Linked DNA regions of Homo sapiens: region 2 is linked to region 1. The links come from fine-mapping of genetic effects on gene expression. Tissue or cell type: monocytes. Region 1 holds a variant in brackets; the other region holds the start of a gene. All regions are shown on one strand. Distances are from middle to middle.

The links. PIP is the estimated chance that this variant, and not a neighbour inherited with it, causes the effect.
Region 2: it holds the start of SNAP91, and the variant in region 1 is fine-mapped to the expression of SNAP91 in monocytes (Fairfax 2014, PIP 0.95).

Annotation. Positions count from the first base shown.
Region 1 is chr6:83,764,742-83,770,945 of GRCh38, reverse strand. No RefSeq gene overlaps it. Among named protein-coding and RNA genes, the nearest start is that of SNAP91, 59 kb to the right of the region's middle. The variant G/A (reference allele first, on the strand shown) is at 3,737.
Region 2 is chr6:83,706,848-83,711,847 of GRCh38, reverse strand. SNAP91 (synaptosome associated protein 91) reads left to right here and starts at 2,747. Exons shown (of 30, transcript NM_001242792.2): 1 at 2,747-3,003; 2 at 3,891-4,050. The coding sequence starts at 3,921. It overlaps LOC105377879 (a long non-coding RNA gene), which reads right to left and starts at 2,406. Exons shown (of 3, transcript NR_136251.1): 1 at 2,129-2,406. RefSeq lists silencers at 2,475-2,534, 2,865-3,074, 3,484-3,778.

The DNA of each region.
Region 1 (6,204 bases):
TCATACATTTTTATGTTATGATAAATGTATTAAATATCTAACAAGCAATTATGATAAATGCCTATACATGTATTAAAATATTAGCCATACTTCCCACTACAAGAAAAAATATGACTTCATTTTTTTCAATTTTTTGGCATCTCATCCAAGTATATAAATTTTTGTTTACCAATAAGTAGCTCAGAATATTTTGAACACCCTTATAAGACATTCTTTCAAGGTATTCCTTTTGAGAAATCCAAAAAAGAGCAAAACAGAGTTCTATTTCTTGGCATTATAAATCCTCATGTCCATTTTGCATAATAAATTATTAAGTTTCAACCAAACAAGCAACCAATAAAACAATTGTTCAGATACATAACTAGAAACAAAATAATTTTTGTCTCTCATTTATTTTGCAACTTTTTTTGATAGCATTGATATTTAATTCATGCATATTTTTAAAAACATTTATTAATCAATTTCTTAAGATCAAAAATATATCTTTGACCGAATTTTTTTTTGTTACTGAAGTTTTGTTTTTGTGAACTGTGTTTGGGGTTCAATAAGATATTTAACATTTTTAACTTTCTTAATTAATTTCTTTATGTTAGCACCAGGGATTTATGGTGTTTCTTCAGACCTCTGTTTATTTGTGCATAATTCACAATGACAATGCTATGGAGCAGTGAGTGACCAAGGTGGGCCCATAGGCATGGAGAAATTATGGATGTCAAACCCTGGGCAGACTTCCTCCCTGGTCAGGGCTAGTGGAGAGGGAATGGGTTTCCTTGTTCCTTTCTGGCATGGAGTAAATCCCAAGCAAACAGAAGCCTAGGGGAAAAGGGAAGTTGGTGGTCTAGAACCAGCCTTATTTGCTCTTTTCTTTCCCTCTTCTCTTCCTCTCTCCCTTTCTCTCTTCTCTTGCTATTTCAGTTTAGACTCCTTTACATACTCAGAACAGAAATTTGCTCATATTAGTTCCCATAATGATTTAATGTTAAAATCCAGAGATTTTACCTCAGTATGGTGGCATGTGCCTGTGGTCTCAGCTACTCAGGAGGCTGAGGCTGGAGAATTGCTTGAGCCATGGAGTTGCAGGTTGCAGTGAGCTGAGATCAGGCCACTGCACTCCAGCCTGGGCGACAGAGTGAGACCCTGACTCAAAAAGAAGAAGAAGGGAAAAAAAAAAAAAAAAGGCCAGCTGCAGTGGCTCAAATCTGTAATAGAAGCACTTTGAGAGGCTGAGGCAGGCAGATCCCTTGAGTCCAGGAGACCAGCCTGGGCAACATGGCAAAACTCCACCTCTACAAAAAATTCAAAACTTAGCTGGGTGTGGTGGCGTGTGTCTGTAGTCCCAGCTAGTTAGCAGGCTGAAGCAGGAGGATCACTCCAGCCTGTGAGGTCAAGGCTGCAGTGAGCCAAGATGGCTCACTGCACTCCAGCCTGGGTGACAAAGTGAGACACTGTCAAAAAAAAAAAATCACCCCCCAAAACAAAACAGATTTTGCAGGAACCCACCCAAGAAAAAGTGTTAGGAACAACAGAAGATTCTCTCTCTCTCTCTCTCTCTCTCTCTCTCTCTGTCTCTCATATGACCTTTCTCTCATGACATCTTTGTTTTTCTGTGTGCATTTGCTCAATTCGCATCTATTAACTAACTTCTTCTTCCTATAATTTCCATTTCCACCATGCCTCTATATCCTGACTCTACATCATACCTTCAACTCCAGTTGTCTTTTCTAATTCACTCAGTTTCTCATTCCCCAACTCCAAAATACCAATAAATAAATCTGATTGGCTCAGCTGGTCTTTTCAAGCCAGGCCATTGATGGTCCTAATCCACTCAGGCTGAGGGATAGGATCACATGGATACAGAAAGGGCTATGAGCAGGGCAGGCAATGATCAATATCTCAGTATAGTCTTCTATTTTTCTCTCATTTCTTTTTTCAAATAGCTACTGAATACCCACCACGTACCCATTACTATTCTAGCCTCAGTCTCTACTTTCAAGAAGCTAATCATCCAGGAGAGGAAAGGAAGATGGGGATTCCAGAGAGACTTCTCAGGTAAGATGATGCCTGAACAATGTCTAAAAGAATAAGTAAGAGTCACCTCAGTGATGGGAGTAGGAGGTTGGCAAAGATGAAGAGGAAGAACACAGAGGATTCCTGGCAGATGGAGCCATTTGTAGAAAGGAACAGAGGTTAGAAATTCACTGTAAATCCCTGGGACTGCAGGTGGTTCAGCAATGCTAGGGGCCTGGCAAGAAATAGGCTGAAGAGGTAGGTGAGGGAAGATCATAAAGTGTCTTGCAGCCCCCAAGTTTGGAGGACAATGTGACCACTAAATAATTTTCAGTAAGGCAGTAATACAATTGGATTTTTGTTTTATAAAGATCTCTCTGGTAGCAGTGTTGGCAGTGGATTGGACGGGTACTACTGAAGTCTAAGAAATGAATTAGAAGATCACTCTAGGCTTCAAGGTAAGAAATGACGTGAGGATTGGAATTAAGGCATGCCATCGGAATGGAGAAGAGATGGACTTGAGAAGTCCTAAGGAAAGAGAATCAATGCATACAAACTCAAGATGTGAAAGGAAGAGTGACTAGAGGTCTGGTGGCTTTACCCCCTTGAATACTTTCTAAGCCCACCCCCAACACAAGTACTAGTCAAATACCTACTTCTTCTTCCCTATGTCTTACCATTGGTGTGCACAAGCAGATGAGAAGAAGCTGGGAGAGGTTACGGCTTCATTTTTAGCATCTAGGGAGCACTGTTTTACAAACTTGCTAACCCTCCTTACAAAACCTTATCCATTTGTATTCCTCAAATCTGTTTACCGTTGGACCTGTCTTCCAGTCCATTCTTCCAAGCCCTATTTTCCTTCCTTGGCTGCTCTGCTCTTTCACATTCCCTTGACTGATATTGTCCAGAAATCCCTAACATTCACTCACTCGCACATTCAGTCAACATTTGTTAATTTCCTACTATAGACAAAGAGAAGAGAGTGATCAAAGAGCAACCCCTCCATGACACCCAAGCACTTTCTGTAGCTTTGAGGCAGAAGAGCAGGGTAGAAAAATATAACTACAGTGGGATTAGCAAAAAATGAGCCCATCAGCAAGGCTTTAATGAACTCAGTGTGAGCCCAAACTCTGCAAGAATCAGAGAAGGCTCCACACAGATTTATAGATTTCACTGTCTATGGTCAACAGCAAAGGTAGGGACACATGTAACTTGGGCTATTTTCTTTTGGAGGTCCCTCTGGCCCATCTCACCTGCATGATCTCCTAGATGTGCTTTCACTTGCCAGCATGCAAGCAGCAAAACAATAATTTTATTTTAAAATAATTATATTTTAAACAGTAAATATTTAATATTAAACAGTAAATATATATGAAACAGTAAATATTTAAAATAATTAGTGTTTAGGGCTAGAAAAGTGGAATTTAGAGGGTCATTAGCAGTTATCCTCCTGCCTAGAAGTGTAGCTTAATCTCCAGCCTTAATGACTCCCTGCCAACTGATTTGTCTCTAGTATAACTAACCACAAAGGATGAGAAGAGAGAAAGAATTGGAAAGGGATCCTTATTCTGAGTTTTAGCATATACTGGCCTCAAGAGCCACATTCAACACTGGAATTAAGCTACATTCCTCTTTCTCGTCAGGCACTTCATTCACCACAAATGAACAAAATATTTCTGGTTCGTTTCTGGAAAGGAAGTGAAACTGTGAATTCAGGTTACCCAACAGG[G/A]AAGGCACAGTAGGAAGAACAATAGCTGAGCACATCAGTACCAGCTTCATAGAGACCAGCAAGCAAGATGGGGTGGGACAGAGGATCAGTACATCTAATGGTCTGATATAATGCTTCATGGTTTCACAGAAGCGCAGTTGGGAACAATTTAACATGGTTCGTGACAGCCAAGAAACACTTGTTTGTCTGAAAATCCTAGACTGCTGACATCAGGGCCCAGGGGATTCCTATTGGGCTGAGGCAATGCAAAGACTACAAAAAAGGCAAAGCTGTAAATCATGCCCTAGAGGTCAAAACACTTACACAAGGTTACACATGGAATTCTTGCAGCCAACCAAATTGGACTTTCTTTGAAGCTAGGTAAACAATCTTTGTCTTGGCTGCTATGTCACAGCCATATAAGATGGCAAAATACAGCTGCAAAAAGGCTTTCAGCAGTTTCACCTAGTTTACCTTCTATGTCTAACACCCAGTAGACCAGAAGATTCCCCTGACGAGACTGTTTCCTTGGAGCATGATCCTTCGTGTTCTCACACTGTCCTTTCCCCATTTCTTTAGTCAGTTGTATGGGATGCACAAACATTTTACTACCTGTAAAGCACGTGAGTTACAGCCTCATGAGTTTGGAGCGATACATTATTTTTGGCATAAGTCGACAAATGTGATGGCATTTTATGGCAGTTTCATAGGCCCTTTCCTAATTTCTGTGTACTTGCATCTTCCTTGAAAATCAGAACCAATTCTCCCAGCCTCCTTATTAATAGGAAAGCGAAATTTCTTCTCTTTGAGCTACAGGTTCACCCCCATTTCCAGGTCATATTCATTTCATTGCTTAAATCTATTTCAACTGTAACTTTTTGTTACAGTTTAACAATTTGTTAAATTGTTAAACTTTTTAACAACGTTTATCAACTTTGTTCATAAAATTATCACCAATTACATATCCCTGGTTCAGAGGCTCAAAGTTATTTATGTTGTAACTACTTCTTCATGTTTTGAAACCTTCTCTAAAAACTCTCAAGTTTGCTTTCAATTTTTCCAATGATTTTTTTCTAACTCCTAGGATCTCCTCAGTCCCCAGGGAGCTCACACTCCAAGGCCCACATCTAGTTCTAAACAACCCCAAATGAAACATTATAGCATCTTGCATTAGTCTATTCTTACGCTGCTAATAAAGACATACCCTAAACTGGGTAATTTATAAAGAAAAAGAGGTTTAATGGACTCACAGTGTCACATAGCTGGGGAGGCCTCACAATCATGGCAGAAAGCGAAAGAGGAGAAAGGCACATCTTACATGGCCACAGGCAGGATTGCGTGTGCAGGGGAACTCCCCTTTATAAAACCATCAGATCTCTTATTCACTAACAGGAAAACAGTGTGGGAAAGACCCGCCCCCACGATTAAATTACCTCCCACAGGGACAATTCCCATGACATGTAGGAATTATGGGAATGATAATTCAAGCTGAGATTTGGGTGGGGACACAGCCAAACCATATCACACCGCTTCAGACAGACTTTATTGGTCTTATTTTCTGCCCATTTGAATTATTTTACCATCTAGTTTTCATTCGAGTTTTTGTGGGGATTTTGTTGGGAGATGGGTGTTCTTCTGCATGTAGTTAAGCTGTGTTGGCAAGACTGTGGGAGTCAGGGAGGTCAAAGGAGCCGGAATGTAAGTATGGAAGGTCAAAGCTGGGGCGGAGGGAAAAAGTGAGGGAGACAGAGATTGAGTCTCTATAAAATTCCAACCTGCTGCAGTAGCTAATCCTTTCAAAGTCACTTCATATACTGCTAAGTTAATGGAGGCAGTCATTTTTCCCAGACAGTGGTAATATTTGTTACCTGGACAACCTACTCATTTATTCTCTACCCCTCCCCTAAATAGGACTGCAGTCATTTCTGTGTGAAAACAAAACTCACAGTTCAACAGAGCCATACCATTTAGTTTGTTTAATTACAATGCTTATTTTTATAAATACCCAGCAGCACATTTTTAGAAATCTAACAAATAAGCAAATACATCCTTAGATCACAGACACAGCTCTCCTATTTTGTTTGGTACAAAAAGGAAAGAACACTTATCACACCTACACACTATTATTTCCCCATTTCCATCCACTTAAATGCACTTAAATCCACTTAAATGGAGAAATGACACGATTCCTAGTTTTCTAAACCATAACTAGAATTTCCTCTGGGGAATTAGTGTGAATACTCTCAGAAAATCTTTTGCAATGATATTTAATTCCTCTTTTGTACTTTAAAACGACTTCATAACTGATCAAATAAGCAAAAAAAAATTGTGGGGGTGGGGTGGGGGGCATACACAGGCTAGAGAATAACTAGAAGGCTATTCCAGAAACCCACCAAGACTTTGATTTTGGAAACTGACCAGATGGCTTCACTGGTGAATTTTTCTGAATGTTTAAAGAAGGAATAACACTACTCTTACATAAACTCTGT
Region 2 (5,000 bases), 58 kb after region 1:
TTCTTCATTCCTAAGCATTTTAATGCTATAAATTTGCCTCTAATCACCACTTTGCCTGCAACCCACAAATTTTGATATGTTGGATTTTCATTATTATTTAGTTCAAATAAATTTCCAATTTTCTTATGAGAAAATTAGACCTATGGGTTATTTGGAATGTGTTGTTTAATTACCAAATATTTAGAGATTTCCATATATCTATCTGTCACCGATTTTTAGTTAAATTCCACTGTGGTAAGAGAACATAATGTGTATGATTATAATCCTTTTAAATTTATTGAGACTAGCTTCATGGCTTAGGATCAGTCAGTATGGTCAATCCTGGAGAATATTCCATGCACACTTTAAGAAAGTATTCCACTACTGTTGGGTGGACTATTTTATAAATGTCAATTAGGTGAAGTTGGTCTGCAGGACTATTTCTTTCTTTTTTTTTTTTTTTGTGAGACAGAGTCTTGCTCTGTCACCCCAGCTGAAGTGCAGTGGCGCGATGTCCGCTCACTGCAAGCTCCGCCTCCCGGGTTCACGCCATTCTCCTGCCTCAGCCTCCTGAGTAGCTGGGGCTACAGGCACCCACCACCACGCCCAGCTAATTTTTTTTTTTTTTTGTATTTTTAGTAGAGACGGGGTTTCACCGTGTTAGCCAGGATGGTCTTGATCTCCTAACCTCATGATCTGCCTGGCTCGGCCTCCCAAAGTGCTGGGATTACAAGCATGAGCCAACCGCGTCCGGCCTACAGGGCTATTTCAAGTCATCTATACCCTTACAGGTTTCCTGTCTACTTGTCCTATTTATTACATAGAGAAAAGTGCTGAAATCCTGAAGTATAATTGTGGATTTGCCTGTTTCTCCTTTTAATGCTATTAGGTTTTGCTTCGTCCTACTTTGAAGCTCTGTTCTTAGATATACAAACAAGTAGAATTGTTCCATGCTCTTAATGAATTTTTCATTATGAAATGTGCCTGTTTATTGCTATTAATATTCCTTATTGTAAAACCTACTTTGATATTAATATTGCCACTCCCAACTCTATCAGATTATATTGAGGTATAATTAACAAACAACAAAATTCGCCAATTTTAAGTGTACAAATTGATGAGTTTTGAGAAATACATGCAGCTGTATAATCATCATCACCGTCACGATATAAAACATTTCCATCTCTCCAAAAAGTTTCCTTCTGCCCCTTTGCAGTCCCCTCCCCCAATGCCACCGTCACCTGACTCGGCACCTGATGTGTTTTCTGTTTCTATAGTTTTGACTTTTCCAGAATGTTACATAAATGAAATCAAAATAATAAGTAGAATTTTTGATAGAGCTTCTTTCCCTTCGTCTAATGAATTTGAGATTCATGAATGGTATTAGTTTGTTTCTTGTTATTGCTAAGTAGTATTCCATTATGTGGATATACCATATTTTGTTTATTCATTTACTAGTAGAATAACATTTGGCTTTCCTCCAGTTTGGGGCCATTATATTAAGCTGCTATAAAACTGGAGTACAAGTTTTTTTAATAGAATTGCGTTTTTATTTCCCTTGTAAATATGGTAAGACTAGTACTTGAGACAATAGTGCTCTTAAGCTGTCTCTCTTTAGTCATTAAGCTTCCAATTAGTCCTAGAATCAGTCTCAGTAGTTAGGAAATCATGACTGCATACTGAACACTGTACCAGGTGAAAGAGAGGAATATATAACAAAACGTTGAGATCGATAGGTATCGATATATGGCTTCAAGGCCGAGCAGAAGCCACCCGAAGCAAGGAGAAAAAATGCCAGGAAAGCTCACAAATATAGTTTTGATCTTCATGCTACTGTGAGAATTAAAAAAAAAGGTGAACATAAATAACAACCTTTGAAAATGTCAACACGTGAAGCTATTAACCAACTCCACATCCCTGTTTAGAAATTCCTGCTTACTATTCGAATATACACTTGACATACAATTGACGGACGTTCCAACACTATATTTAATTGGCAGAAATTACTTCTTAAGGGTACAAAGGGTTTTCTTTATGCACGCAAATGATTACTGTCGAAGGTAATCTGGGACTCGATTAACGGCTGTGTTAATTATTCTCCCTTCAGCAGACCTCAGTATCCGTTTAAGACTAAAGTGGCTAGAATTACCTGCCCACCCGGGCTCCCAGTTGTAACTGAGACAAGCGGAGGAGCCTGAGGAGCTGAAGACGCACAGGTGACGGTCGCGGATGGCCGGCAGGATCTGACATTTAAAATCGCCCTGCTCATCTGGGCCTCGGAGCCTTTGACAGGCGGGCGTGTCAGCGACAGTGTGGGGAAGGGGCTGGGCTCCGCCAGGCAGCGCGCGACGACGCCCTTGCCTTGGCCTTCACAGAGTAGAACCCGAGAAGCCCACTCGCCCGTCTTGGCCAACGCCCCCAACGCCCAGGGCTCCCCCCGCAGTCGGCGGGCAGGTGTGCGTGGTGCGCGAGCCCAGTGCGTGCCGGGTGCGGCGCCAGCAGCGGAGGGGCGGCCCGGCGCCCAGCGGAGAGCCGCTGGCTGGGTGGGTGTCGGCCTCCCCGCCTCCTTCTTCTCCCCGCCGGCTTGCCGGGGATGCTTGCGCGAGGCGCCCCCTCGCCTTTAAGCTCCCGGCCCCGGGGGGCGGTGTGTGTGAGTAGCTGGGAGGGGGCCGCGAGGCGCTCCGCCGAGGGCTCGTCCGGGTTTGTCCGCCGCCGTCACCTGACTCGTCGGAGGAGCCACAGCTGAGGTGGGGGCGGGGATGGGGACGCAGCTCGGAGCGCTAGAGAGACGCGGCGGCGCTGGCAGAAGAGGCGGCGGCGGGCGGGTACTGGCTTCTGGGGCCAGGGGCCAGGGGCGGTGGGCGCCGGGACCGCGGAGCTGAGGAGCGGGGCCCGGCCAGGGCTGGAGACTTTGCGCCCGGGGGCACCGGGGCTACGCGCGGTCGCACACATCCACCGGCGCGGCTTCCCTCGGCGGCCCGGGCTCCGCTCATCCTGCGGCGGGCGGCGCCGCTCAGGGGCGGGGTGAGTACCCGCGGCCGTACTCGGCCCCCTCCCCGCGCCAGGGTCTCGCGGGGATCCGCAGAGGATAATCCCAGGGTGCGGAGAAGGGCAGCGGCCGAGTGACAGCTCCGCGGAGCGCTCCAGGGCGGGCGGGGGACTGGGCTTCGCTGTCAGCCCGGCTCCTCTCCAAAGCCAGGAAGGGTGAGGCGCCCCAAGACTCCGGCGCCTCCGCAGAGCTCCCGGGCGGCCCCTGCGGCAGGGATTTGGAACCGGGGGGAAGGGGCCCGGGCGATGGGCCTCGGCGAGGCTTTGGAGCCGGCGGCGAGGAAGGAAGGGGAGGCGAGGGCATAACATGGCGCAACGCTAGGATAATCTCCTTCGCGACTGAGGGAGGACGAGCCCTTTGCTGCAGCAGCGCGAGGAGGAGGAGGGAGGCAGCCAGGGCTTGGGTATCCGATGCATTCCCCGAAGCCTGCGGGCTGCTAGGAGGAAAGTCTGCTGAGGTGGGAGATGGGCACCGGTGGGTGCGGCGCCCAGGGAATAACCCCAACGCACGTTGTGGCTAGTCCAGCACCCGCGGGTCAGGTTGCGGGGAAAGTGCTGATTGACAGGGGGGTCCCCAGGGGGTGAGTCTGGCCCTATGTGGGGGCCGGGGGAGAATGGGGACGGTGTCACGATGCTGCGACTGGAGCCCACGCTGGGGTTCCGTGACGGCCCTACTCACGGCCAAGACTCCCTGGACCGCATCGCAGGAGCGGGGCTTGGCGCGTTGCTGGCTCCGAGAGGTGGTGCCAGGGTGGGGATGGAGGAGGAGAGAGCCGCCGCGCGGCTGGAGGAGGCAAGGCCTGGGTGCTTGGAGGGTAGGGTCTGCGGATTAAAGCCGGACCGTCTCCCCTTGTTTCCTGCAGAAGAGGAGGCGGTAGACGCGACCACAGAAGATGTCGGGCCAAACGCTCACGGATCGGATCGCCGCCGCTCAGTACAGCGTTACAGGCTCTGCTGTAGCAAGAGCGGTCTGCAAAGCCACTACTCATGAAGTAATGGGCCCCAAGAAAAAGCACCTGGACTGTAAGCATCTCTTTATATAAGAGGGACATGCGCACGGCAGAGGCGCCTGGGATGCTGGTGGTGCGGCCTGCGCTCTTGGTCCATAATGCTGTGGCCTCTGATACTCCCAGCCAGGTTGCCCCTGAGCTGAAATTCTTCAGCTGTGAAGGTGTTCCCTTGGGTTAGCCATGAAACCTTGTCTTGTGAGCCATTTTTTCCTCTTATTGACCTCCAAGGTCTTGGTGGAGGGGGAAAAATACACACACACACACACACACACACGCATATGTATATACACACACACAAGAGAGAGATTGTACACACTGAATTAGATGTTTTTCACCTTTTTTTCTTTCTCCACCCACCCTCCCTTCTCCAAATTAGAGGAAATTAGAGGTTGCACAGTCAAAAAAAAAAAAGATGAATTTATGGAAGGTCAAACTTGTCACCCTAGTTCTTTCCTAAATACATTTCAGATAGTTCTAAGGTAGTATAATCTTTTTAAGTGTTGCTCCTGAGGATTGTTTTTGTGAGTATGGGTGTGTGTGTGTGTGTGTGAGGTATGTTACCATACCAAACTGAAATAAATTCAAGGTACTGAATGAGGAAATTGGACTTCATAGCTATGGCAATTTCATTTTACACATCCTGGCACACTTTGTCCCATTCTCAGAAAATGCTGGGTGAGATGACTATGCTATGGTCACAAAATGGATGTACTTCCCCAGCATCTGAGATGGTGCAATTTTAGATGAAACCGTTTAATTCTTAATATTATTTTTGTAACTGGTTATTTGATGGAAAAGGCTTTATTCTACTCTGGAATCTATATATTTCTGAAATACCTTAATTAACAGTAAATCTTTTGTCACCGAAGGATAAACAGAGGCACTTAGAAAAGAAAAAGGCTTTCACCTGCTTTGGGTGGTGAGGTTTCTCATAAGTCAGGCTATATGAGTGTATGTTCAGCA